Homo sapiens: one gene and its partners. The protein of the gene in region 7 interacts with the protein of the main gene of each other region in a biochemical or structural test. Each region holds a gene or a part of one and is shown on either strand. Other genes may lie near its edges.

Region 1 (3,500 bases), on a different chromosome or scaffold from region 7:
TCTATTGTAAATTGTTAAGACCAATTTCAGAGGTGTTAAAATATGAAAAGGAGGAGCATCTAAGAATCAGTGCAATCAGTATTATTTTTATATCTTATGATAAAGTTACTGCCAATCATATGTTAGAACATATCCTTTGCCTCCTACCTTCAGAGCATAGCTTTGAGTTCTAATTATTACAGTGACAATAACACCATAAGGACAAAATATGTACTCTCTTTTAAAAATGACGTATCTGTTCAGCTATACACTCATAAAAGACGGAAAACAGAGTACCTGCAATGGACAACAACGGGTTCTTCCTTGCCAGCCCTCTTGTTTCGTACATGACAAACAAAATCTAGAAAGTCACTCGAATCATCAGGGACTCCATGGTCAGGCCAGGCTATGTACTGGATCTGAGTGAGTGGACGACTTTCATTTTTCTAAGAACAAATGAAAAATTATGCACCTTGACTTATGTATTATTGAAATTGTCCCTACAAACCTCATAAAATTCATCAGGAAAGAAGGGAGGGGGAGATAGAAAACTAAACACAGCTTGCAGCACACTTAGCATTGATCACTAGGTCAGCTGCTCTCTGACCCGCGTCCTCATAGTTGGTTGGTGCCTGTTGCCTCAGAATCCCACAGACCCATTACAAGATTATAGTTCCCCTTAACTGCTCTACAGATAACAACTTGGGACATTATGAAATGTTAGATTTCCCCTTTGAGACATTCTTTTGGGTCCTGCATACTGATGAAACTACTGACTCAGTTGGTCTAAAGGACCCTGAGGTAAGCTAACTCACCAAAGAATGCACCTCCTGATGATTTCATCCACCTTATCCCAACCAATCAACGATCTTAACTTCCCAGCCCCTTGCTCTCCACCATCCCCTTAAAAACCCCATCCCAGATCTCATCTCCTTGGGGAGATGATTTGAGGGTCTCCTCCCATCTCCTTGCTCGGTACCCTGCGATCATTAAACTCTTTATCTGCTGCATCCCTGCTGTCTCAGTGTATTCGTCTGTTATTGCACAGCAGGAATATGAACCTGTTGGTACTATGACATTATCTTTAAAATATATTCATGTCATTGGAATTTTAGAAGGAAAGCAAAACCAACCACTCCTCTTCTCCACCAAAAGTTATGTATAAACTCATTAAAATGCAAAATTTCAACAAAAAGGAAAGAAACTATTTTACAGAAATAGTTGTATCCATTTAAGTATGGCTAATTACATTACTACTCTTTTTATAACTCAATTTCTATATGTGTAAAGTATTTTAAAGATGATAATCAAGTACATAGGTAGAAACAAATTAAGACCCAGAGAAATGCTTAAAAAAAACTAATGAATTCTTGGGTGAGCAAAAATGGTAAAGTAAAAAACATTTTTTGTGAACAAAGCTGACCTAATCCTCACACAATGCAGATGAAATTATGGAAATCAGAAAAATAAAATCTCAAGATAAATGTATATTAAAAATTGGAGTTAATAAAAACACAAAGTCAAATCAGTGGGATTAATTCTTTTTGGAGAGCCAAGGTTGGTATAACGGAGACAGTAAGAGTATTGCGTTTAGATACATCTTGGTTCAAATCTTGACTCTGCCAGTTACAGCATTCAGTGTTTCAGAAAATAATTTCCTTCAACTGAAAAATGAAATAACATCTATACTTTAAAGGATCAGTCTTATGCTAAAAAGACTCCATGAGAGGACCTGTAAATCACCCCATCAGCTACTTGGCACCATATACTCAATAAATGGTTGCTATAGTCATTCAACACTATAATTATAACTATGGTTATTGCCATTTACACTGAAGAGAGCTTCCTGAAGAGTAAAAGTAAAAGGTATTCAAGACTTGAGGTAGTATCTGCTATCATTAATCCATCCATGTATGTATGTATTTATGGGAGCGAACTCATTTTCCCAATTATGTTTGGCTCAAACTTTAGAAACTAACTCATGTCTTAGTTCTAATGTACTCAGGGTGTGTAAAGAAAAGCCACTATGGTATATAAAACTGTCATGGATAATCTACAGGTGGAGTATAATAGAGACTATGCTAAAGATAGACATTATTTTATATAAACATACGTAGCCTATCTTTCATTATCTATTTGAGAAAATGAAGAAATATCATATTGGCTTGACCTGTTACATTAGACCATGAGCTACACAGTATATGTCCCCAAACCCTAAATTCATTCTGATGGACTCTAGCCCATAAAATTTTGAAATTTTAAAATTCTTGTCATTTTAGCTTTATTCAATGCCAGATTCCTTTTCTATAAATCAGCACAACTTCTGGCTTCTTCCCTTTTCGTCAGTAAGACTCTGTCTCTCTGGTTTCCTTTAATCATGCTCTTGGGGTTGGAGGGGAGTTCTCATTTCCAAAGGCTTGACCATTGATGGGATAGTCCTGGGCACTCATAGCTTGGGCTATTTGCTCTTCTCTAGCAGTTATTCTTTTAGTCCCTTTCAAAACCAAAGATGGTGGCAGGGGGATAGCTAGCTGCAGGCAGAGAAAGTAGGGTGCACTGTCTCTAGCAGCCTGACAGAACTGGCAGCATGACGCTCTCTACATACATCTTCCAATTGGGATACTGAGCCATCATTTATTAATCAGTTTCATTTGAAGCCAAGAGGACTGACTCAGGCAAAATTAAGAGCTGGCAATTAGAAATCTACACCCCATCTGCTGTCAGAAGGTCCTGGTTACAACCTTTTCCTTCTTAATAGGTAGGGGACTGTGAAGTTGCTCTCCTCTACTCTTTTAAAAAAGGAAAATAATTTAATAGCTTTCAATTGTTTTTTCCATTTCCACAGACACACCCAAATACTGTACTGATACTACTTGGAGTAAAAGTTTTTTTTATAATGAAACATATCTAAACAGTTGTTCTGAATAAGCAAAGTAGTAACAGTAGTATTATTTACCAGACTACTTTTTCACTGACCATTCATATTTAGTCATAGAAACTAAAGAAAAACATTAATTTTATAATAGAATAGGATAATACTCTTAATAAAATTCCAAAGTACCCCATTAAAGCAGATAAATAATTCAATAATTCTTATAGTATTTCCTAGCAACCAATACTCAAACTAAAAACATTTTCAGCTTTCAGTCTTTACCCTGAACACAACAGTTCTAATGAACAGATATCCTGCCTTCTTACCTCTTGGTTAAATAGGGTCATCTTCCTGAAGATATAGGCAGTGTTTCCTTCTTCAGAGTGGCAGGTAACTTGGTAGCATCCATAAGATGAACTGCCTGTGGGTTCTGGCCAATATTGGTGACATTTAACCTGATATTGATATAAATAAATAATAAATAAAATTATATACATATGGATTCATGTTCTCCAATTTTTAAAAATGTTTTTTTAATAAATTTCAAACATATAAAAGTTACAAGAAAAATTTAATAAATTTCATCTCGATCTGCTGACTAGTGTTTTTTTTTTTTGCGATGGAGTTTTGCTCTTGTTGCCCAGGCTAG
Region 2 (3,500 bases), on a different chromosome or scaffold from region 7:
AGTAGTAGCTGGGATTACAGGCGCATACCACCATGCCCTGCTAAAAATTCTTAATAATTATTTAACATGGGGCCTTGCATTTTCATTTTGTATTGGGCCCTGCAATTTATGCAGCCAGTCCTGGTCAAGATGTAAATAGATATAAATATAGATAGAGATGCAGATACAGATATAGGCACAATATTATATCTCAAATGCACTGACAGACAGTCTCACATGATTCAGGCCAAAGCACAGTCTAATTACGTGATTTAATTATGTGATTAAAGGCAAAGGCAGAAAACTAGGGAAAGTACAAAAGTGGAGAGCCTTTAGAGCCTTTACTTTTAACCTTTAGAAGGTTAAAGGTAAGAGATAAAGGGAAAGGCAAATTCAGGTCTCCTGAGAATAGTCAGGTTAAGTGAAATATGATCAAAACTCCAAACTTGCTACCATAGCCCATAAGACCCTAGGAAATCCAGACCCTGCCTACTTCTCTAACCTTATCTCCTACCACTCTCTCCCTGTTCACCACACTCCAGTTGCACTTCTTTCTTTTCTTTAAACACCTCAAGTTTGTTTTACTGCCCTCAGACCTTTTCTCTGCCTGGAATGCTTTGTCCCTCAGCTTTTTTCACAGATGACTTATTATTTGGATCTTAGCTGGGACACCCTCCCCAGTCTAAATTAGCCCTTCTCTCCTTAGTCACATTTGCTATCACCTTTCAATATCTGAAATCTAGTTCATTTAATTGTATCTTTTTTTTATTGTTTTTCTCCCACCACTAGAATGTAAATACCAAAAGAGCAATGATCTTGACTTGTTCACCATAATATCACATGCCCTTAGTGTTGTACCTGCACATAATTGTACTGAGTTAAAAATTTGGTGGATGAATGCATGAATGAAAGCAAACAGAAGGCAGTCCGGTAGCCTAAGGAAACTTCTGAGAGCAGTGAGCTGTTGTGCTGATGAAGACTCCTTTCAAGAAGACTAAGACTTTCTTTGAAGTAGTTTTCTGATGTTTCCCACTGAGTTGGGCTGTGTGTTACAGGCAGATGCTTATGCATCCTGAAATAGGACCAATTGTCCCATAGAACTGATATTAATCATTTCTTTGAATAAGCACAGAAATTGATTCTCCCATTGTTAAAACTTGAGAAAGTTAAATTTGTCTTATCTGAGTTACTTTCTCAGGAAACCAACCATCAGGCCTCCCAGATACTATCAAGAAACTGAAACTTACCAGATCATTGCATCTGGACAATATGATACCAGACCCTTCAGCCATCATGACTGCCTTACCCAGGGGTACCCAGTCCTTAGGCTGCAGACTAGTAGCCGTCCATGGCCTGTTAGGAACCCGGCCAGACGGCAGGAGGTGAGTGGAGGGCAAGTGGGCATTACCACCTGAGCTCTACCTCCTGTCAGATCAGTGGCAGCATTAGATTCTCCCAGGAGTGAGAACCCTATTATGAATTAGGCATATGAGTGGTCTAGGTTGCATGCTCCTTATGAGAATCTAATGCCTGATGATCTAAGGTGGAACAGTTTCATCTGGAAACCATCCCCCACACCCCCATGCGTGGAAAAATTGTCTTCCACAAAACTGGTCCCTGGTACCAAAAAGGTTGGGGACTGCTGGCCTAACCAATCACTTGCTACCTGTTGACCAACTCCTCTTCCTTACCCCTCCCTAATTCCTGTTTTCCCACACATACTTACATTTTTTCCCTGCCATATAAGCCCCTAATTTTAGCTCGTCAGGGAGAGGGATACAAATTTCCCATCTCCTTGGCTGCGGCACCCAGTTAAAGCCTTCTTCCCTGGCAATACTCCTTTCAGTGATTGGTTTTCTGTGTAGTGAGCAACAGGACCTAAACCGAACCCCTGGCATTTTGGTAACACCCCCAAGACAAATGAGTAGCATTTCTGAACTCGTTAGATTCTTGAAAGAAAAAAACATGCACTAGTAAACAGAATATTGCCTTTGGGTACAGAATAAAAGATAATAAAATACAGTTGGCCATCAGTATCCGCAGGTTCCACATACACAGGTTCAACCAATCACAGATTGAAAATGAACATTAGGCCTACAATGGCTGTGTCTTTACTGAACATGTACACACTTTTTCTTGTCATCATGCCCTAAATAATATAGCATAACATATTTACATTGTGTTTTGTATTATAAGTAATCTAGGGATGATTTAAAATATAGGAGAGGATATGCATAGGTTATGTGCAAATACTACACCATTTTATATCAGGGACTTGAATATCTTCTAATTTTGGTATCTGCAGTGTCCTGGAACAAGTTCCCTGAAAATACTGAGGGATGACTATAACTCTTTGATCTTTTATATATTGGTTTCCTGAAACTTTCATGTCATTTAAAAATGATCAGTTAAGTTTAGCCCAGGGAAAATAGTCATTCCTGATTTTGCCAATTTTCTTAAACAACCTTAGGATTATATAAATAGCTGATGTTATCTTGAGGAATCTCTGCTGTGATAAGGTATAAAACAAGTTACCAGTTTCTAAATGCTGTCATTTTTGTGTCTCCTCAAGTATAATACATCCAACTTTATAGGAAGAAATATTTACATTTTTAATATTAGCTTTAGTGAATAAATAAATAGTAGGCATTTCTAACTTGTCAGTCCACAGAAACCAGACAGATTATTTACTGAGCAGCCAACATCATTGTGCCCTCTTCCTCTTTTGAAATGACCTTAATGTGAAATGTCACTACACTAGTACACTTTTCCCTCCACTCTAATCCCTCCCAAATGACCAACTGCAGCCTACCCCATCCCATTCATGGGTCATACTGATCTTAGAGGTGGACGTATATTTTAAAAAGAAAATCGTTCCCTCAAAAAACATTGGGAGACTTGTAGTTTAATAAGCCTGCCATAAAATTTTTGATTTGTAGAGCCAAGAAAGAACCTTTAAAGATCATTTTATGAATGATTTTGACATCGTACATATGAAGACTAGGGAGCAGAGTAAGTGGCTGCTCAAAGTCATATGTCTAGTGGGCATCTACCCTCTGGACTGGTACTCTTCCCAATGCAATAAAAAAAACATGAAATATATGTACTATGTAATATGTACTATGAGCTTCTTTGCTATGAGTCATCTTTCTTTTTAAATTATAGCAGAAAATAAGTGTATTTATTTCTACTGCCTGTCAATTTGCTTACAAAGGAGTTGTCATAAGAAGTTATTTAAAGGATGTAGCTGAATTTCTTTGTGAAACACCAGATCTATGTTATTTTCTCTTTTAAATTGCAACATTTGTTGATACCTTAGCAAATGAAGATGAAAGAAGAAAATAACATAAAGGGTAAAATGACATTAAAGGAGACATAATTAGAAAGAGCTGATATTTAGATGCCAAGAAGGTACACTGGAACATGGTAACTTTTTTGATATTTTTCCTTCTTTATCCAAATAATATATCAAAGTATATATCCTTGTTGTAAGCCATTCAAAAAATAAAGAATAACTTAAA
Region 3 (4,005 bases), on a different chromosome or scaffold from region 7:
GCATGGTTGCATTTAAACACAACCCATTAAAGTAGATAGTAGGATAGCCCCATTCTGCAGGTAAAATGGAGGCTTAGAGAAGCTGGCTCATTAGTGGGAGGATTAGACCTTTCTGTCAGCAAACTGTCAGATACTGTAGTGTATAGATACAGAATATTTTATCATTAAGGGACAGGCAAATTGTGTACAACTAGACTTTTTAAATGCCGAGACAATATTTATGTTCATTGCAGAATTATCTGTTATTCAGCAACCATGCCCTCTTTCTTCCTGCAAAAAGAACCTCAAATCATTCAAACAGTGGGCAATGATTCCTTGACTTCAGGAAGAGTAGGTCCTTATTGTAGAAACCTGTGAAAGAAATCCTAATCAGTCTGTATTAATCACTGGCATTTCTTACCAGTGATTGGCCTAAAGACAGGCACAGGGTACAGTTCTGGTTAATGAGATGAAAGCAAAGGTCTAATGAGAAACAAAAAGCCAAAAACCTGTCTGGAATGAAGATGCAATCAATGCTGGAGTTGTGGGATCCATCATGCAACCATGAAGACAAAGCCAACATCATAAGAATGGCAGAGTGGAGAGATAAGTGGGGTCCTTGATCACATTATTGAGCTGCTGCTCCCCTTGCCTGGAAAATCTACCTCCAAACTTCTTGTAATATGAGAAAAACAAACCCCAATTTACTGAGAGCCACTATAAACTCGGTTTTGAATTTTTTTCACAGGGGGAAGCCTTCCTAACTGACACACACATATGCACATCCTTTTGTTTTACTTAAGAAAGTTAAGGAAAAGTCATACAACTTATAATGGTGTCCCGTGCACTCGTGGCTTATCACTGTGAAACCCAGTTCTCCCTGGCTCATCCACAGTAAGAATTACTTCAGTAATTTGAAAAATAACCTTTTGGAATTATTTCTGGGGATATGAAAAGTAACCTGAACCAATAACAGAGCTCAAATGCAATCCATATTACCTTCTTCCCACCCTCAAATTAAAAATTTTTTCTCCCTTAATTACAAATGTTTCTTGATGAATGCACATGTGTGAAAAGCCATTATAATCTATTGTATCAGACTATTAAATACTCTAAAAATTTAAAAGCAATATTATAACAAGTAATGTTAATCTGTAGTTTAAGAGAAAAATAGAAATATTAACCCCAGTACATAAATATTTCATTGGTATGACTACCCACACCAAAAGATAAATGAAGAATTGAGGTATGCTGCAGGATGACTAAGGTTTAAAAAGGGATTCAAATATACAGATAAATAGGAGAGGCAGAAATGTTTTGATCTTGAGTTATGCTGAAAGCTGATTTAATTCTCCTTTCTGAGTGTGGGGAAAAAAAGCAACACATGGTATTTATGCAATCTATTATCCAGAATTATAAGCAAACTTAAAATATTTTTAGATGCTATTTTCAGTTGAAGAGAGAAAAAGCAGATATTTTTGAATGCACAAATATATACCATGCCACCATCTTAACCATGTTATTAATCTTTAATCTGATTTATAACTGAAAAGCTCATGTGGTAACTGATTGTATGCGATTTCATTCACAAAAAGAGAAGATTATCCATCAAACAGGCATATTTTTCTTCGGATTTCATAGAATAAATGAGCTAGACACATTTTTCTTTCAAATCCCAGGCTATCCAAAATATTTCTAGATAATCAGAAAGGCATGAAACAGCAAATTAAGTTATATTAAGGCAGTTCTCATTATTTTGCATTTTTGACAAATCTGACAAGTTGAAAAAAACAATTTGAATAAAGGCAATATTGGAAAAAGAAACATACCTTAGAGATGATTAATGGTTCTCCGTGCTCCAGGCCACCCTTTAGAGTAAAACCCCAGGGAGCTCCTCCCTCCAGGAATGCCTCCAGATAAATGTACCTTCCCTTGGTGGCCGTGTTAGAGTTTAATGTGGCACTAGGCTTGTGGAAGTCTTCAGTGGTCCTCATCATGCCAAACACATGATCCCTCAAGTTAAATTTAAAATGCCTGAAGCAAACTCAGGCAAGCAGTGCTTCTACAGCACAAGTTGTCCCATCCTTCAGGACACACAATGGCCAAAAGAGAGGTTTGGAGAAGCAAATTCTTCCATACGTAAAATGTTCTTCCAAGCTGAACTCCAAGATGCTGAACCAGAAGGAATTTTCACTTCAACATTTCTGAATGTAAATCCTCCTCCAGGAATTCTGGGTTCTCACTGAAGCCCCCAAGTGGTATACATCTCTACTCCGTTCGTCAAAACTTCCTTCAGTGGCGCTCTGAAGATTGCTTTTCTGAGCTTTTATTTCACACATACACACACTAAAACCATTTCTGCCTATTTTACAGAGAAAATTAAAAGCATCTTACAATATAGTAAGAAAATCACAAATACTCAAAGGAATACCTCATTTTTGATTGATTATCAACCCTTTCTTCCTCTCGGAGTGAAATTTACCATTACAATAGCCTCCTCCCTCCCCAGAAGTAGCTTAAAAAGAAAGAAAGCACTTACTATGCTTCGGCTCACTTCAGAATTTTCTAACTTGTCCCGAAGAGACAGAGAAGCTGTGCTAAAACTTTTTACTTCTTTTTTTCAACAATCAGTTCATAGTTTGTTTCTTAGGAGAGAAAAAAACTTTTGCAGGATGTAGAGAAAATGAAAAAGCACGGTAAATTAATCCTCAATGGAAAAAATATGAAGGAGGCAGCTCAGTTCTTTTCTTTGGTATTTTCAGTGATGATCAGCCACTGCTGCGGCCGCCACAGCCACTTGCCTCCTCTTGAGAGAAAGAGTAAGGAAGTTAGAGGAACATGGATTAAGGCAAAGTGAGGCATTGCAACCTTTCTGCACAGTAAGCACTGCCATGCAGAATTCAGCTCACCACAAAGACCTGACAATTCAAACAGTCTTACAGTTAATAACACGTAGGAAGTTAAAAATACTATACAGATGGCTAATTGCCAAGGGATAGAAAATAGTTCCTAGAATAGCCCCGCCTCGTACCAATTAAAGGAGAATTTCAGGGAGTGAGACATAGGCATTTGTGTTTTTAAAAACCCTCCAGGCAATTCTGCTATGCAGCCAAGTTTGAGAAGCAATGCCTAAGTGATTTGGGTAAACGTTTAAGTACATGTCAAGGTGGTGGCACAAGGGCTTTTTTTTTTTCGTTAGAAGAAAATACTACCAGTGTAATATATGAAATGGGACTTTCCAATCAAAGTTCTGCTTGTTTGACTCAATAAAAACAGGAGGTGGGTTTTTTTTTCTAGGTTTTCATTGTTATCTACTCCAAGATTGTTATCCACTCTTTAAATGAAAAGAAATCTACAATGCCTTGTGGGTAAGTACTAGGTACTCGGGAAAGAATGTTGTTCTGATTTCATGTTACCAGTGTCATTTTGTAATAATGTTATATACAAATTTAACATTCATGCTTTGTATTAAAAATTTGAACAGTAGAAGATAACCATATCTAACCCAGAAGCCTCAGCTATTTAGTTATTGGAACAGATTAGAATTACTTCCAGGTAATATATGTACTAAAACTTTTTTCTGTTTAAAAGTATGGGATAATGAGAATTAAGTTGAAAACTGAAGTTAAAAACTACTGTGGGGCTTGATAACAATTATTTTGGTGTTTGTACTTATAATTAATGAAAGGCTGATATGGAAAGGCAGGTATATGATATCAAACTACACGATATTTAATTTACAACACTGGACAGGTATTGTTTGATTTTCAATGGTAACTTCACTTGAAGGGCTCAAAGACAAAAAAAAAAAAAAAAAAGTAAAACCTTATGTAATGGTAGTATGTGAATGGAAACATAAGGAAACCTAAGGTGTACCAAATGAAAGTATGTGGTAAAAATTGGCTGATTCTTAAGGGTAATTTACGCAATTTCTATTGTGGTTTTCTTTTACAGCTTAATTTGTAAGTTAGAATAAATGGAGAAACATTAGCTTTTCTTTCATTTCAAAGAACATATGTATTTTAA
Region 4 (3,500 bases), on a different chromosome or scaffold from region 7:
AGAAACTTACACTGTGCACATCTGATTTCGTGGTTATTTTTCCTGTGGCATTTTAAATTAAGAATTCCTTTTCTATTGAAAAATGATTAATGTTCACCTTTCTTTTATTTTAGTTACTTTATGTTTTTATGTTACATTTAAATTTTAATTAATCTGTTATATTTAGCATAGTGTATGAGATTGAGTCTCCATTATTTTGTATTATTTAATTTAGTTAATAGTCCTTTTCTCCTTTGGTCTAAAGTCCACATTAATAATAAATAAAGCTTTCCATGTGATGACTCTCCTTCTGGACTCTGTGCTATGTTCTACTATCTCTTTTATACACACAATAAGACACCACTTTAATCATTGTAGATTCTTAATAAATTTTAATATCTGATACAGAAATTTTCTCTTTGTTACTATGTTTTAATTTTTTTCAAAATTTTGTTGACTAGTGCATTTACTCTTCCAGATAAAATTTGGAAATTTCATTCCTAATGTTAGCATTATAATTTAGGTCTTCATTGCTTTTCACCCTTATGACCTGAATCCCCACACAGTCCATTCTGTGACCTAGTGCAGCCTAACCTGCTTATAGTTTAACCACAATGTAATAAATAATAACGATGATGGTAAGATAACTCATTTGCCATGTTTTCTTAAAATTTTAAATTTTGGGTTCTTAATGTGATATTAATTTCAGATTTGTCTCCAGGGAAAAGAACATTGAACCTCCTCCCTTTAAGAAGTGTCATTGTATTTTCAGAGTGTGGAAGGAGAACACCATGAGAAAGCTGTGGAACTACTCAAGGCTGCTAAAGACAGCGTCAAGCTGGTGGTGCGATACACCCCAAAAGTTCTGGAAGAAATGGAGGCTCGCTTTGAAAAGCTACGAACAGCCAGGCGTCGGCAGCAGCAGCAATTGCTAATTCAGCAGCAGCAACAGCAGCAGCAGCAACAAACACAACAAAACCACATGTCATAGGTGAGAAGTGACTTATTCTATACAAGGAGTATATATATATATATACACACACACATATATGTATATATGAATATACTTAAAATATATTTTAGATATGTTCTAAAATATATTTTCTTAGCTGAAACAAAATCATTAGATTTAAATAATCCAAACAAAATCAATCAAACAAAAGACAGTGATCTAAAAGTATATAAGCAAGATAGTTTATGTGCCATTCAGCTATATTCTCCACAAATATAAGATAATTTGGAAAATGATATACTTTGAAAGGGGCAAGTACAGGCTCTAGGATGCTTTTATACAAATTAAGAAAATGCAGCCTCTGTGCAAACCCAGATCCTAAGGAGAAGAGTGTGGGCTGGATTCCAGGCCTCACTCACCCTGTTGGCCAGTTGCCTTTACACAGTGTATTAACTGCACAACCTTATAGTGCTGACCCTGGAAAGATCTCCTTTAGAATACTGAGATACAATTTATTGGAAAAGTGCCCCACTGAAAAGAATGAAGCTGAGACCTGCCACTGTCTATGCTGTAAGAGATTCTGAAGTTCTCTGCGGATGCTCCTTTAAAGTGTGTCTAACATACAAATGGCCAACAGCTATATGAAAAAATGCTCAACATCTCTAATCATCAGAGAAATGCAAATTAAAACCACAATGAGATATCACCTCATACCTTTTAATTTGGCTATTATCAAAAAGAGGAAAGATAACAAGTGCTAGTGAGGATGTGAAGAAAAGGGAACCCTTGTACACCGTTGGTGGGAATATAAATTGCTACAGCCAATTTGACAGACAATATGGAGGTTCCTCAAAAAAGTTCATAGAATTCCATATGATCCAGCAATTCTGCTTCTGGGGAGATATTCAAAGGAATTGAAATCAATATGTCAAAGAGATGTTTACACTCCCATGTTCAATACAGCATTATTACAACAGCTAAGATATGAAAACAACTGAAGTGCTATCAAGGGATGAATACATTTTTTAAATGTGGTAAGTATGTGATAGATATCTATATCTACCTACACACACACACACACACACACACACACACACACACACACACACAGATGTATACCATTTAATATTTAGCCTTTAAAAAGCAGGAAATGTCATTTTTGTCAGCGTGGATGGGCCTAGAGAACATCATGCTAAGTGAAATAAGCCAAGCATGGGCAGACAAATACCACATGATCTCACCTATGTGTGGAATCTGAAAAACTTTAATTCATAGAAGTAGAGAGTAGAATGTGGTTTCCAGAGGCTGGGAGGCTGGGGGAGGAGGGTAGACAGAGAAAAGGGAAAAGGTCTTAGCTAAAGGTTACAAGTTTCAGTTAGGTAGAAGGGGAATAAGTTAAGATGATCTATTATACAACTTGGTAACTATAGTTAATAATACTACATTGCATATTTCAAAATAGCTGAGAGAATGGACTGTAAATATTCTCACCACAAAGAAACAATAAGTATTTGTGGTAACAACTTTGGTAGCCTGATTTGATCATTCCACAATGTATACATGCATTGAAATATCGCATTATAATCCATAAATATATAAAATTATTACTTGTCAATGAAAAATAAAACTTTAAGAGTTTTGAAAAAGTTGTAAAGTAGAAATAAAATGTGTCTAAGATTCTCCTGCCTTTTTCTAAATTCCACTTTGTAACAAAGAACACTAAATCAGGTTTTGCTGTATATTATCAAGAGAATTGAAGAAAAAATGTTAAGAGACCCCATCTTAGAAGTTCCTACTATGCCCTATGCCCTTATCACATTTTATCCCTAATCCTCAGAAAAAAACCTTCAAGGCAAGTATCAATAAATAGTTTTTTAGATGAAAATATGAAGCTAAAATAGCTTCAGTGGATTTCCCATGACTGCATTTACAGAAACATAGAATTCTTTTCCTTTTTACTCCATCAGGTTTTCATCTGCCAACATCAGATATTCTGGAGTTATATAAATTTTCCTTGCTATCCTTTGGAGAAGACAGTTCATATTGTTAGATACCTTTACACTATGATGTCTGTGAATGTGTATTTGAAGTGAACTTCAAATATTCTTGGAAAAATGATTGTGGGTAATAGTGGTTTTAGGTCATTCAACATCAGATTACTATTTGCACAAACAGAAATATTGGATATAACATGAGGCTTTTAATTGTTTGTGACACTTGTGAAAAGAAGAAGCTACAGGCTGGGAGCAGTGTCTCATGCTTGTAATCCCAGCACTTTGGGAAGCCGAGGTGGGTGGATGACGAGGTCAGGAGTTTGAGACCAGCCTGACCAACATCGTCAAATCCCATCTCTATTAAAATTCAAAAATTAGCTCCTGTAGCCCCAGCTACTTGGGAGGCTGAGGCAGGAGAATTGCTTGAACCCAGGAGATGGAGATTGCAGTAAGCCGAGATCGAGCCATTGCACTCAAGCCTGAGCAACAAGAGTGAAACTCTGTCTCAAAAAAACCACAAAAAAAAAAAAATGAAAAGAAGAAGCTACACAGAAAAGGGGGGAAAAGATAGGGAT
Region 5 (4,069 bases), on a different chromosome or scaffold from region 7:
GCCTAGACCCAGGTAGGGCAAGTGATATACCTAGGATTCCAGAACTAGAGAGTGGCAGAAAAAGGATTAGAACCCAAGTTTTTAATCTGCCAACCCAATTATCTTTCTATTACCTTCCACCCATCCCAACCAGTGTGTACAGACTAAGAAGGCTGTTTTCAAGGAGAAAGCTGTATTGTTCTGAATCATAAAAGGAAATAAAATCAAGGTTGAAAAATGAAGAGGGAATTAATGAAATATGCCAAAACAGTGTCTTGTCAAGAAAAACACAATACAGGCAATCATTGTGCTTAAAAAAATACTATGGTCCCTTTATATACCGTTGAAGCCAACCCAGTTATAACTGACTTTTACTGTTAAGAACTAGGCTATTTGGGAGGAATGGGAGAAATAATTTTATCCCTTGCATATCTAAATGCATGTCATAATGAGCCTTCATATAATAGGGGTCAACTGTACATTCAGTGGAAAGGGAATCATTAAAAGGCACCCTGCCTCTCAACACACGAAGCACTTCCTCTACAGCTTGGCCAAGGAAACCCTCATCTACCCTCTCAAATAATCCCCCAGCCAGACCACAAATTGCTGGCTGCCCCATACTTAGTAACACCCCCTGCCATGCTCTCACTGGCTCACAAAATAATCCGGGACCACAGCAGCAAGCACTCTCTGGGGTGCTTCTCAAGATGGGTCAGCTCTGGGCAGAGCTGAAAAATGACCTCTCCAAGGCAGGTTGTCTAGGCAGACTGTGGAAATTCTGTGGGCGGTGTGAGGAGAAAAAGAAAGGGAGGAACTGCCAGATCATGGAGGGCTGCATATCCCATTGTGACCTTGGTGGAAAGAGTGGGGAGAGGAGGAGCTTGATTAGAAGAAATTCCTGAAGGCCAGGATTCCCCTCACCAAAGGAGTTGAGTGTTTTTGTTAAAAAAAAAAAAAAAAAAAAAAAGCATATAACTTTCTCCAGAGAACACTGGAGGGAGACTGCCTCAGGAGGGGTTGTGACAGTGGATGACAAACGCATCTCAGGCTGGTTAAAGTACATGACAAGTATGGGGGAAAGGGTGCTGGATGAAGATCTGGGCTAGTTTGGGGAGGCTAATGATCAGAGGGGTCCCTGCCAGCCCCTCAAAATGTTGCCTCAGCATACCTCAGACTCCTCAATCTGATTGGTACACCCATGGCAACACTCCAGGGTTGCTAAGAGTGTGGGCCCCAAGGCCTGAAGGATCCCATACACTGGAAGTCAACCACAGGCTCCAATGCAAGGCGAATGCCGCACAGGTTATTGTGGGTGTGTGTTGCGGTGGACGTTTGCTGAACCCTCTGCTGAGATGTGACCAATGTTGAACCCCACCCCCCCGCAAAAAAAAAGTGATATTTGCTCCCTGCTGAAAAGACACATCTTTCTATCTCCAGCCTGAACCCACATCTACAACTTCAACTGCCATTTAAGCGGGTTGGAAGCGGGAGGGCTTTTCGGATTTGAGGATTTAAGAGAAACAACAAAAAAGTGGAATAAAGTTCGTAAAGTCCGTTCACTTGGCAATCTGGCACCTCAAGGTGAGTCGTCCCACAAGTCACTCTTCCTGGTAACAGCTCCAGCTGCCCCTACCCCTCGCCCTCACCCCTACGGGGGAGGCTCGCTTTGGGGGTTCTGGAGCACTCAGGAGAGCTCCTCTCTCCTGTCCTCAGCTGCAACTTGGCTTCCAGCAGATCACAGACTCCTAAAACAAACAAACCCTGGCGGCGGCGGCGGCGGCGGCAGTGGCGGCGGCGGCGGCGGCGGCGGCGGCAGCGGCAGCAGCAACAGCAGTAGCTCCAGCACAGCTGCGCTCCATGGCGCAAGTTTCCTCCACACTTCTCAACGTGCAGGAAATCTCGCCGGCGCTGGGGCAGGACTCTGGAGGGAGGGAGAGGCCGAGCCGAACCGGCGGCAACAACGCCCCAAGAGCTGAATGGATGTGTGCGCGTCCGGCCGTGGGAAGTGTGGCTGGCAAAAGCCACCAATGGCCTCATCTCCGTTCCCACACCAGCCCCTAGCCCTGCAACCTGCCTGGGAGGGACGGCCCGCCGGTCGATAGAGGGGACAACGCTGCCAAGAGAGCTGCCAAGCCGCGATGACTGTCCCTTCAGTCCTTCACTGTCCCGCAGGGACGCAGAGGCCTCCAAGGAGAAATCCCCAACAGCCTCCACTTCCTTCGGCCCAAACTGAGGGAAGTAGCCGCCCCGACGTGGGGCAGCAAGGGCTGCCCCAGCGCCCTCGCGAGTGTGTCTGCGCGCAAGGTTCTAGCCGGGGGCCAGTTGTGCTCCCAGCTCGTGTTCCAGCCACCCTTAGGGGATGTCTGCACCTGGACTGGTGGCAAGACCCCTCCGTGCCGCTCAGAGGGTCTTTCGCTCCCAGCCCTAAGTTTCAAAGTTGGCCTGAGGGCCCCGTCCAGCGGCAGCCTTCGCACCCGCTTGTCCATTCAAAGTTAGGCGCCGTTAGGACATCAGCCGCCAGTTCTTACCTTAGACACTGTGAGCGGCTCACAGTGTTCCAGACCCCCCTTAAGGGTGAAGCCCCAGGGTGCCCCCCCTTGCAGCTGCACAGGGACGTACTGGAAGGACCCAGGCCGGTTCTCCATCCTCGGCTGGGCTCAGGCGCCGCCGGGCTCCTTTTCCGAGGGGGCTACGTTGCCTCCGCCCCCAGCAGCTCCGCCACCATCGCCCTCCAGCTCTACGCCACCCCGCACCGCCCTGCTCCGCCTACTCTCCCGGCTGGAGACGCTCAGGCAGCGAGCGAGCGCAAGGAGGAAATGACACGGAGCTGGAGAAAGGGGGAGAGAGGGGGGAAAAGGAGAAGGGAAAAAAAGAAAAGAAAAGAAAGAAGGAGAGGCGGAGGGATAGCGCGTAATGGACAAGAAAACGGAGCAATGGGGAGGGGCAGTCACTGGGACCTCGCCTATAGGATCGCTGGGGAGTGGGAGCGAGGCGAGGCCTCACATCAATTGTTACATTGTTTCATTCAAGCAGGGCCCCTCTTTGGTCCTCCTCTTTACTGCCGGGTTCCCCGCCCCTCCAGCCAGCCCAGGCGAGGGGAGGTGAAAGTCGTTAGTGTGGACGGCCCGCGTGGCTGAGTGGGCTGAAACGCTGGTTTCCTGATTAGCGCGTTCATGTTTCTCTGACTGCCTTTTTCTTCTGAAGGTCCCGAGAACGGAGACCTGGGAGGGTTAAAAGGCTGCTAATTTGTGGACCTTGCCTAGAGGGGTGGAAAGCAAAGCCAGCAGGCCAGCGGACATAGTGAGGCTGTGTGTGTAGACTGCTCTGTGTGTACGCGCTAGGTGTGTGGGGTCATTATGAAACATTGCCCCAGAGCATAGTTTAAATAAAGAAGCACTTTGAGGATGCCCCCTGCTCGGGCTCCCCCGCACCCTGGCTCAGTGTTGGTGTCTATGGCTAGCACTGTGCTTGTGTATGTTCCAGTCATCTGGAGTTCCTGGCACGGCCTTGCACTTGCCCCACCGAGATGAGCAAGCCAGCAATCAGCAAACTTTATGACTAGCAGTATTGTCTCTAAACAAACCTACAGGAAAGAGCATCCATTGATAAGCTGGCCAATTAATAATGTTGTGCCTTTGGGAAGAATCAGCTTTTAGACTGGGTCCAGAACATCTCTGCACATCTGTTCAAGCTTGACCTTGTAGTTTCTGAGCTGGGCTTTTGTAATAGACCAAACAGCCACAATAATAGTCCTGAAAAGCGAATTTGTTACTGAATCTTGTGCTGATTTCTCTGCCTTCACTTGGACAGGTTATCTTCTCTCTTTGAGGTGTTTTCTCTGGAGCCACATGCGGGCAGTGAATTTTTAAAGGGCCTCGCACTAGCGGAGAAAGTGTTGACAACTCAGTTGTGACTCAACAGGATGTTCCCACTCTGTCTCGCCTGTTCAGTTTCTTCCCCTGTTCTTGTGCAGCTTCTTCTTCATGGCCAACAAACACACTGCGGCCCCTTCCTTCACAGCCAGCTTTCTGCGGTCAAGGTTTCCACTCTCTACTTCTACTTCCTCACCTGTCACTGCCTCTTCAACGCA
Region 6 (2,954 bases), about 110 Mb from region 7:
TAGGAGGCTGAGGCGGGCGGATCACGAGGTCAGGAGATCGAGACCATCCTGGCTAACACGGTGAAACCCCATCTCTACTAAAAATACAAAAAATTAGCCGGGCGTGGTGGCGGGCGCCTGTAGTCCCAACTACTCGGGAGGCTGAGGTAGTAGAATGGCGTGAACCCAGGAGGCGGAGCTTGCAGTGAGCCGAGGTCTCGCCACTGCACTCCAGCCTGGGCGACAGAGCAAGACTCCGTCTCAAAAAGCAAAACAAAACAAACAAACAAAAAATCCTACACAGGAAAGTTTTATATGGCTATTAAAGATCTGGGCATCTTCAAATCAAGAACCAAATTCTAGAATTTGATTAACATTCTAAATTTGATTTCTATAAATTTAGAAAATTCCAAATCTGATTCTAGAATTTGATTCTTGATTTCAAGATGTCCAGATCTTAGTTAGTAGCCATATAAAACTTTCCTGTGTAGGATTTTTGTGAGTAAACCTGAACATTGCCACTTCCTGTTGTTTGTTGTCATCTGTCCTCTCATCAACTCTCACATGGCAGTACTGGGTACACGTTAGGTATTTTACAAACGAAAGAATCACTTAGCAAGGTTGAATGGCTCAAGAGCTGACAAAAGCAGAATTTACAAAGGATGCATAGTTTCATGTTGTTCCTGTGAATGTTCTCTGTCTAGGTTGGTGACCAGATTGTTGAAATCAATGGGGAACCTACACAAGGAATCACACATACTCGAGCAATTGAGCTCATTCAGGCTGGTGGAAATAAAGTTCTTCTTCTTTTGAGGCCAGGAACTGGCTTGATACCTGACCATGGTAAGTAAAGTAGCCCACTAGTAGCTGAAAAGTTGTATATTAGGGAGGGGACAGAAGAAAAAGGAATATATATTTGGAGAGGATAGATATTTTACTAGTTAATTCAGAGGTGAATGCTAGAACCATGAAAAGCTAGTTACATAGCAGAGTTATCATAAATAGTATTAGAAAACAAGTGACTTAGGCAGGACTTTCGTTGGAATGGAATGTATTTTAAATTTAATCAGAAAAAACATATAGTTGTTTTTGTAGAGAAATGTACCTATTAAAAAAGTGTATTAGAGGCAAACAATTTAAATACCATAAAAAATGTTTTAAATCTCTTCAAAATATCCCAGCTTTTTCTCTTACTTAGCTAATTACACATTACCAACCAATATTTTTATTTCTGTAAAGCAAGATAAGTTTATATTATAATGAATGCGCAGCATGAAAACTTAGGCTTTTCTGGTGACTCGGCAAAAACAAGTTGCTATCACCCTACCTGGAGACAGGGAGTTGGACCTGAGACCATTTCTGTCCTGTATTAATGTTAAACTTCCTGGGTTTCCATGGCATGTTTTGAAATATCATGGTATTTGAAAGTCACTGTTTTTTGAGTGCACTATTCTAGAAATAAAGGCAGTACCACACCCACGCAGTACTTGCCTCATCTAGCTCCCCACCTCCTGCCCTACCCCACCCCACCCCACCGCTTTTGAGGGATAAGTGTAGACATAACCTCCTACAGTACCCTTCCAGCTTATGATTCTCTGACTGTATTATCTTCCACCATCTGCTTGTAAATCATATGTTCCCAGTGACATCTTTGCTAACTGCACTGATTTTTTTTTTTTTTTTCACATAGTCCTAGGCTTTTTCTCTTCCCTCTTCAGGTTTGGCTCCTTCCGGTCTGTGCTCCTACGTGAAACCCGAGCAACATTAAGGCTTTCAGGGCTTTTCTTGGTCTTTCCTTAAAAAGACTTGGTAAATTTGCATGTCTTGTAAATCACTTTCTTCTTTTGTTTTCTTTTAAATTAAAAATGATGCTATTAAATACATCTATTTCTATCTTCTGCACTTTTCAGTCTTCTTTTGACATTAAATTTGACAGCTTAATGCAAGAGAATTATTACAAATGCCCATGAGCCTCATTCTGGTTACCACAGTTTGGTTTCCTTTATTAATTAGTGATTTTGCCATATCCTAAACTGTATCAATTCATAATAATTAGTGAGCTTCTTGGGCCACGTAATTTGGTTCAGCTTTATAACTTGTAAGTTCTAATTGGGCTTTACTAATAGAGAATTTACAGATCATATATTATCTCACTAATTATATGTAATTGGAAAAAATGAATATTATTTTGTGTATATAAACAACCCATCCTTCATGTATGAACAGATGTCTGTACACATCCGCCTTTATAGAGAGATATGTTGTAAACATATACAAACTGTATAAAATACTCAGGCTTTTTAAGCAGTTACGACAATTCAAATGGCTGTCAAAGTTCAAAACGTATTGTTCCTATTTGTAATTCTAAAATTTAATAATGTTCCATTCAAATCACTTTTTTAGGTGATTGGGATATTAATAATCCTTCGTCTTCAAATGTGATTTATGATGAACAGTCACCATTACCCCCATCTTCACATTTTGCTTCCATATTTGAAGAGTCTCACGTGCCAGTAATTGAAGAATCTTTGAGAGTTCAGATATGTGAAAAGGCAGAAGAATTAAAGGACATTGTGCCTGAAAAGAAAAGCACTTTAAATGAAAATCAGCCTGAGATAAAGCATCAGTCTCTTCTCCAGAAAAATGTGAGTAAGAGGGATCCACCCAGCAGTCATGGGCACAGTAACAAGAAAAATCTATTAAAAGTAGAAAATGGTGTTACACGAAGAGGTAGATCGGTTAGTCCCAAAAAGCCAGCCAGTCAACATTCAGAGGAACATTTGGATAAGATTCCTAGTCCTCTAAAAAATAACCCCAAAAGAAGACCCAGAGATCAATCCCTCAGCCCCAGCAAAGGGGAAAATAAAAGTTGTCAGGTCAGCACCAGGGCAGGCTCTGGACAAGATCAGTGCAGAAAAAGCAGAGGTCGGTCGGCCAGCCCAAAAAAGCAGCAAAAAATTGAAGGAAGCAAAGCT
Region 7 (3,500 bases):
CAAACATGCAGCTGCCTGAGGCAGAGGGGACCGGAGGACACAGAGCTCAGAGAACACAAAGCCTGCCTGGCTGGGGGCAGAGCTGGGGGAGGGGCAGCCGCTATCCCAGACCCCTCCCCCTCCCCCAGCCCCATCCCATGCTGAGTCAGAGGTTGGGAGTTTCCCATAGCTGGTCCCTGGAGCTCTACAGGAAGCCCCTGTCTCCAGGGACAAGGCGGCTCCCTGCCCACCCTCAGGGCCCCAAAGTTCCGCAAGGGCACCCCACAGGCAGCAGATGGGTGGGACTCGCCAGGGGCGGGGCTGATATAAGAATGCGCCAGCAACCACCACTGTTGGGGCAGCCCTGTGCCAGGCACTACAGGCCCCTAATCATCTCCCAGCGCCACCCAAGCCCACGAGGGGACCAGAGGCACCGCCCCTCAGGTTAGCATTGAGGCTGAGGCTCAGGAGACTCGATGCTCCGGGGTCCTCCTGCATATAGGGAGCAGCACAGGGTCGAGACCACACATACCCCTGCCCAGGCACACACACCCACGCACACACACCCCTGCCCAGGCACACACACCCACGCACACACACCCCTGCCCATGCACACATACCTGTCCATGCACACACACATCCCTGCCCACGCACACACACCCCTGGCCAGGTACACACACCCACGCACACCCCTGCCCACGCACACACACCCCTGGCCAGGCACACACACCCACGCACACCCCTGCCCATGCACACACACCCCTGCCCACACACATACCCCTGGCCAGGCACACACACCCACGCACATACACCCCTGCCCACGCACACACACCTGTCCACGCACACACACCCCTGCCCACACACACATCCATGCACATACACCCATGCATACACACCAGGGTGCCGGATGCTCCCGAGCCACCCTCCGGGCCTTGGGGCCAGCCCACTCACACACACCCCTGACCACGCACACACAGCCATGCACAGACACCCTTGCCCACGCACACACACCTACTCACATACATCCCTGACCACGCAGATACACAGACATCCCTGCCCACGCACACACACCCACTCACACACACCTGACCGAAAACACAGCCACTCACACACACCCCTACCCACTCACACATAACCCTGACCACGCATACACACCCCTGCCCACGCACACACATCCCTGCCTGTGCACACACCCGTCCATGCACACACATCCATGCACACACCCGCGCACACACAACCATGCATACACACCCCTGCCCCACACCCATGCACACACACTGCTGCCCAGGCACACAAACCCATGCACACCTACACACACACATACCTGCCCACGCACACACAACCCTGTCCACACACACCCGTGCAGACACACCCGTGCAGACACCCCTGCCCATGCATACACACCCTTGCCCATGCATACACACCCCTGCCCCCACACACCCATGCATACACACCAGGGTGCTGGATGCTCCCGAGCCACCCTCCAGGCCTCGGGGCCAGCCCACTCACACACACCACTGACCATGCACACACAGCCATGCACAGACACCCCACCCCACACACACACCCACGCACACACACCCCACCCCACCCCACGCACATACCCCCGTGCATGGCTGCAGCTGCATGTCCAGCCTCTCTACCTCCAGGCCCTGCAACCAGAGCTCAGGTCCAGCCACCAGACACCTTTGGGTGGAACATGACCCAGAGCTGCAACTCGAGGCTTCCTGCCTACAGGTGAGCAGCTTGTGGCCACCACTGCCTGGATCATGCAGCCCTCTGTGCCTGGACGTCCTGGTGGGGTGGTGCTTGGCAGTGGGGCAGGGTTGTACCCCTGGGAAGTGCTCCACGTCTTAAGAACGACCAGGATGCCACAGCCCCAGTGCTTAGCCCGGCCCTGGGGCCAGCTCTTGGTGGCCTCAAGGACCCTCAGAGGTCATCACACTCCGCGGGAGCCAGCAGCTGCTCTAAACCATCCACATCAAGGTGCAGCGCAGGCTCCCAGGGGCCTGCTGATGACAGTGCGGTGCCCACGGGGGGAGGCACCTTCCTGGCAGAGGACCCTGTGTGGAAGGCTGTGGCGTGGCCTCACCTCTGACTGGCACCCAGGACATCCAGGATGTTGGAGAAGAGGTGGTGGTGCTCCATCTGGGTCACGGTCGCCCGCAGCTCCTTGGACTGCAGGAACTCCTCCACCAGGATGCTCAGGCTGTGCTGGTAGGAGAACTCCGACGTGAGGATCTCGAACATGGCCTGTGGAGAGGGGCCTAGGTGAGCCCCACAGTGACGCTGGACACGGGCGTGCCTCGGTGACCAATGCTTGGAACAGGAGGACGTGACCCGGGTGGCAGGGGCAGGTGGGGACAGGAACCCCAGACACACCCCTGGATGGGGCTGTCAGAATGGCCAGCTTGGAGATGCCAGCCCGACGTCCCTGGATGCCCCTGGCTGGGTGCCTTATGAGCCGGCTGAAGCTGGGCAACGACCCCCGTCCTTGTCAGAGAAGGGGGTGATGGCAGCCCCTGGACTCCGAGGATTCACCCGGTGACGTGAAGGGGCTCCGTCAGGGCCTGGCGCAGGTGGAAGCACAGCCCGGGGCTGTGTGAGGCGCTGGTCAGCGTGACAGGGCCTGGCACTGGAGGTGGCCGCAGAGGGATGGCTGGGTGGTGCCACCGTGGCTGCTGCCCCTCCCCGGGTGTTGCATGGCCCAGGCCATGGGGGACAGCCCTCCCGCCCAGGGCCCTTTTACCTCCTGCCTTTTCCGCTCCTCAGTGGAGAGCTGGTCCAGGATGCCCAATTCCACCACCTGGGGGGACACAGGCCCAGGAGCTCTCGGTCACACGTCCTAGAAGCCTGGGCCAAAGTCTCCCTTCTTTCCTCCTCCTGATGGACCAGGGCCAACATGGACAGCCACCCCACAGGGCTCAGGTAGGTCCGATCCTGGAGTAGGCCTGTCCTGCCGAGGGCCTATCCCCGTCACCTTCCTCTCTGTGTAACCCGCCTTGGGTCAGCCCCCCGCTCCCCCCAGCCGCCAGAGCCCCAAAGCAGCCCAGAAAGAGCATGGGGCATCCAGAGGGAGAGGCCAGAGGGCGGGGGGGGATCTTGTCCCACAGATCTTCCCGGCAGATGGAGAGGTGCGGAGCCCACCCAGGGAGGGAGTGTGGAGGGCAGGACTGTGACTCAGACCCCACCTGGGCGAGGCGAGTCAGTGCCCTGCCTGGAAGCTATGGGTGACGCTGTTTCCGCCCGGGCTCCCTCCTCCTCGGGGCCCACAGCTGGCGGGTCGCCTTGGCGGGAGTGTGGCTCGATTGGTAGAGCACGTCAGGACCAGGAGGGCTGCCACACCGCCCAGGGGTCCCCTCTGCAGGACTCAGGCCACCCTGATTCGTGCTCTGCTCCTCACTGGGCTGGGCAGAAAGGCCGCCAACAGCGCCTGGGCCAAGGGTGAGTCCCCCATTCCCCAAACCAGTGCCTCCTTCCCATGCAGGGTCGGAAACTCTGGCAGTTACCAGGGTGCGGTA

What was found.
Region 1: the proteins of ARHGEF16 (region 7) and PTPN4 interact in a test that uses a peptide from one of them, tested with the Homo sapiens proteins (one large-scale study listed by IntAct).
Region 2: the proteins of ARHGEF16 (region 7) and STXBP4 interact in a test that uses a peptide from one of them, tested with the Homo sapiens proteins (one large-scale study listed by IntAct).
Region 3: the proteins of ARHGEF16 (region 7) and SHROOM3 interact in a test that uses a peptide from one of them, tested with the Homo sapiens proteins (one large-scale study listed by IntAct).
Region 4: the proteins of ARHGEF16 (region 7) and LIN7A interact in a test that uses a peptide from one of them, tested with the Homo sapiens proteins (one large-scale study listed by IntAct).
Region 5: the proteins of ARHGEF16 (region 7) and SHROOM4 interact in a test that uses a peptide from one of them, tested with the Homo sapiens proteins (one large-scale study listed by IntAct).
Region 6: the proteins of ARHGEF16 (region 7) and MAGI3 interact in a test that uses a peptide from one of them, tested with the Homo sapiens proteins (one large-scale study listed by IntAct).

What each region holds. Positions count from the first base shown.
Region 1 is NC_000002.12:119,962,422-119,965,921, reverse strand, and holds part of PTPN4 (tyrosine-protein phosphatase non-receptor type 4), read right to left. Parts: intron 3,307-3,500; coding exon 3,178-3,306; intron 426-3,177; coding exon 277-425; intron 1-276. UniProt on the Homo sapiens protein: Phosphatase that plays a role in immunity, learning, synaptic plasticity or cell homeostasis. Regulates neuronal cell homeostasis by protecting neurons against apoptosis.
Region 2 is NC_000017.11:54,975,265-54,978,764, forward strand, and holds part of STXBP4 (syntaxin-binding protein 4), read left to right. Parts: intron 1-3,500. UniProt on the Homo sapiens protein: Plays a role in the translocation of transport vesicles from the cytoplasm to the plasma membrane. Inhibits the translocation of SLC2A4 from intracellular vesicles to the plasma membrane by STX4A binding and preventing the interaction between STX4A and VAMP2.
Region 3 is NC_000004.12:76,434,024-76,438,028, reverse strand, and holds the start of SHROOM3 (protein Shroom3), read right to left. Parts: upstream 2,801-4,005; 5' UTR 1,977-2,800; coding exon 1,809-1,976; intron 1-1,808. UniProt on the Homo sapiens protein: Controls cell shape changes in the neuroepithelium during neural tube closure. Induces apical constriction in epithelial cells by promoting the apical accumulation of F-actin and myosin II, and probably by bundling stress fibers.
Region 4 is NC_000012.12:80,808,935-80,812,434, reverse strand, and holds part of LIN7A (protein lin-7 homolog A), read left to right. Parts: intron 1-751; coding exon 752-970; intron 971-3,500. UniProt on the Homo sapiens protein: Plays a role in establishing and maintaining the asymmetric distribution of channels and receptors at the plasma membrane of polarized cells.
Region 5 is NC_000023.11:50,811,395-50,815,463, forward strand, and holds the start of SHROOM4 (protein Shroom4), read right to left. Parts: upstream 2,801-4,069; 5' UTR 2,625-2,800; coding exon 2,508-2,624; intron 1-2,507. UniProt on the Homo sapiens protein: Probable regulator of cytoskeletal architecture that plays an important role in development. May regulate cellular and cytoskeletal architecture by modulating the spatial distribution of myosin II.
Region 6 is NC_000001.11:113,680,515-113,683,468, forward strand, and holds part of MAGI3 (membrane-associated guanylate kinase, WW and PDZ domain-containing protein 3), read left to right. Parts: intron 1-683; coding exon 684-822; intron 823-1,669; coding exon of another isoform or gene 1,670-1,779; exon of another isoform or gene 1,780-2,382; coding exon 2,383-2,954.
Region 7 is NC_000001.11:3,468,165-3,471,664, reverse strand, and holds part of ARHGEF16 (rho guanine nucleotide exchange factor 16), read right to left. Parts: intron 2,786-3,500; coding exon 2,729-2,785; intron 2,233-2,728; coding exon 2,072-2,232; intron 1,666-2,071; coding exon of another isoform or gene 1,584-1,665; intron 1-1,583. UniProt on the Homo sapiens protein: Guanyl-nucleotide exchange factor of the RHOG GTPase stimulating the exchange of RHOG-associated GDP for GTP. May play a role in chemotactic cell migration by mediating the activation of RAC1 by EPHA2.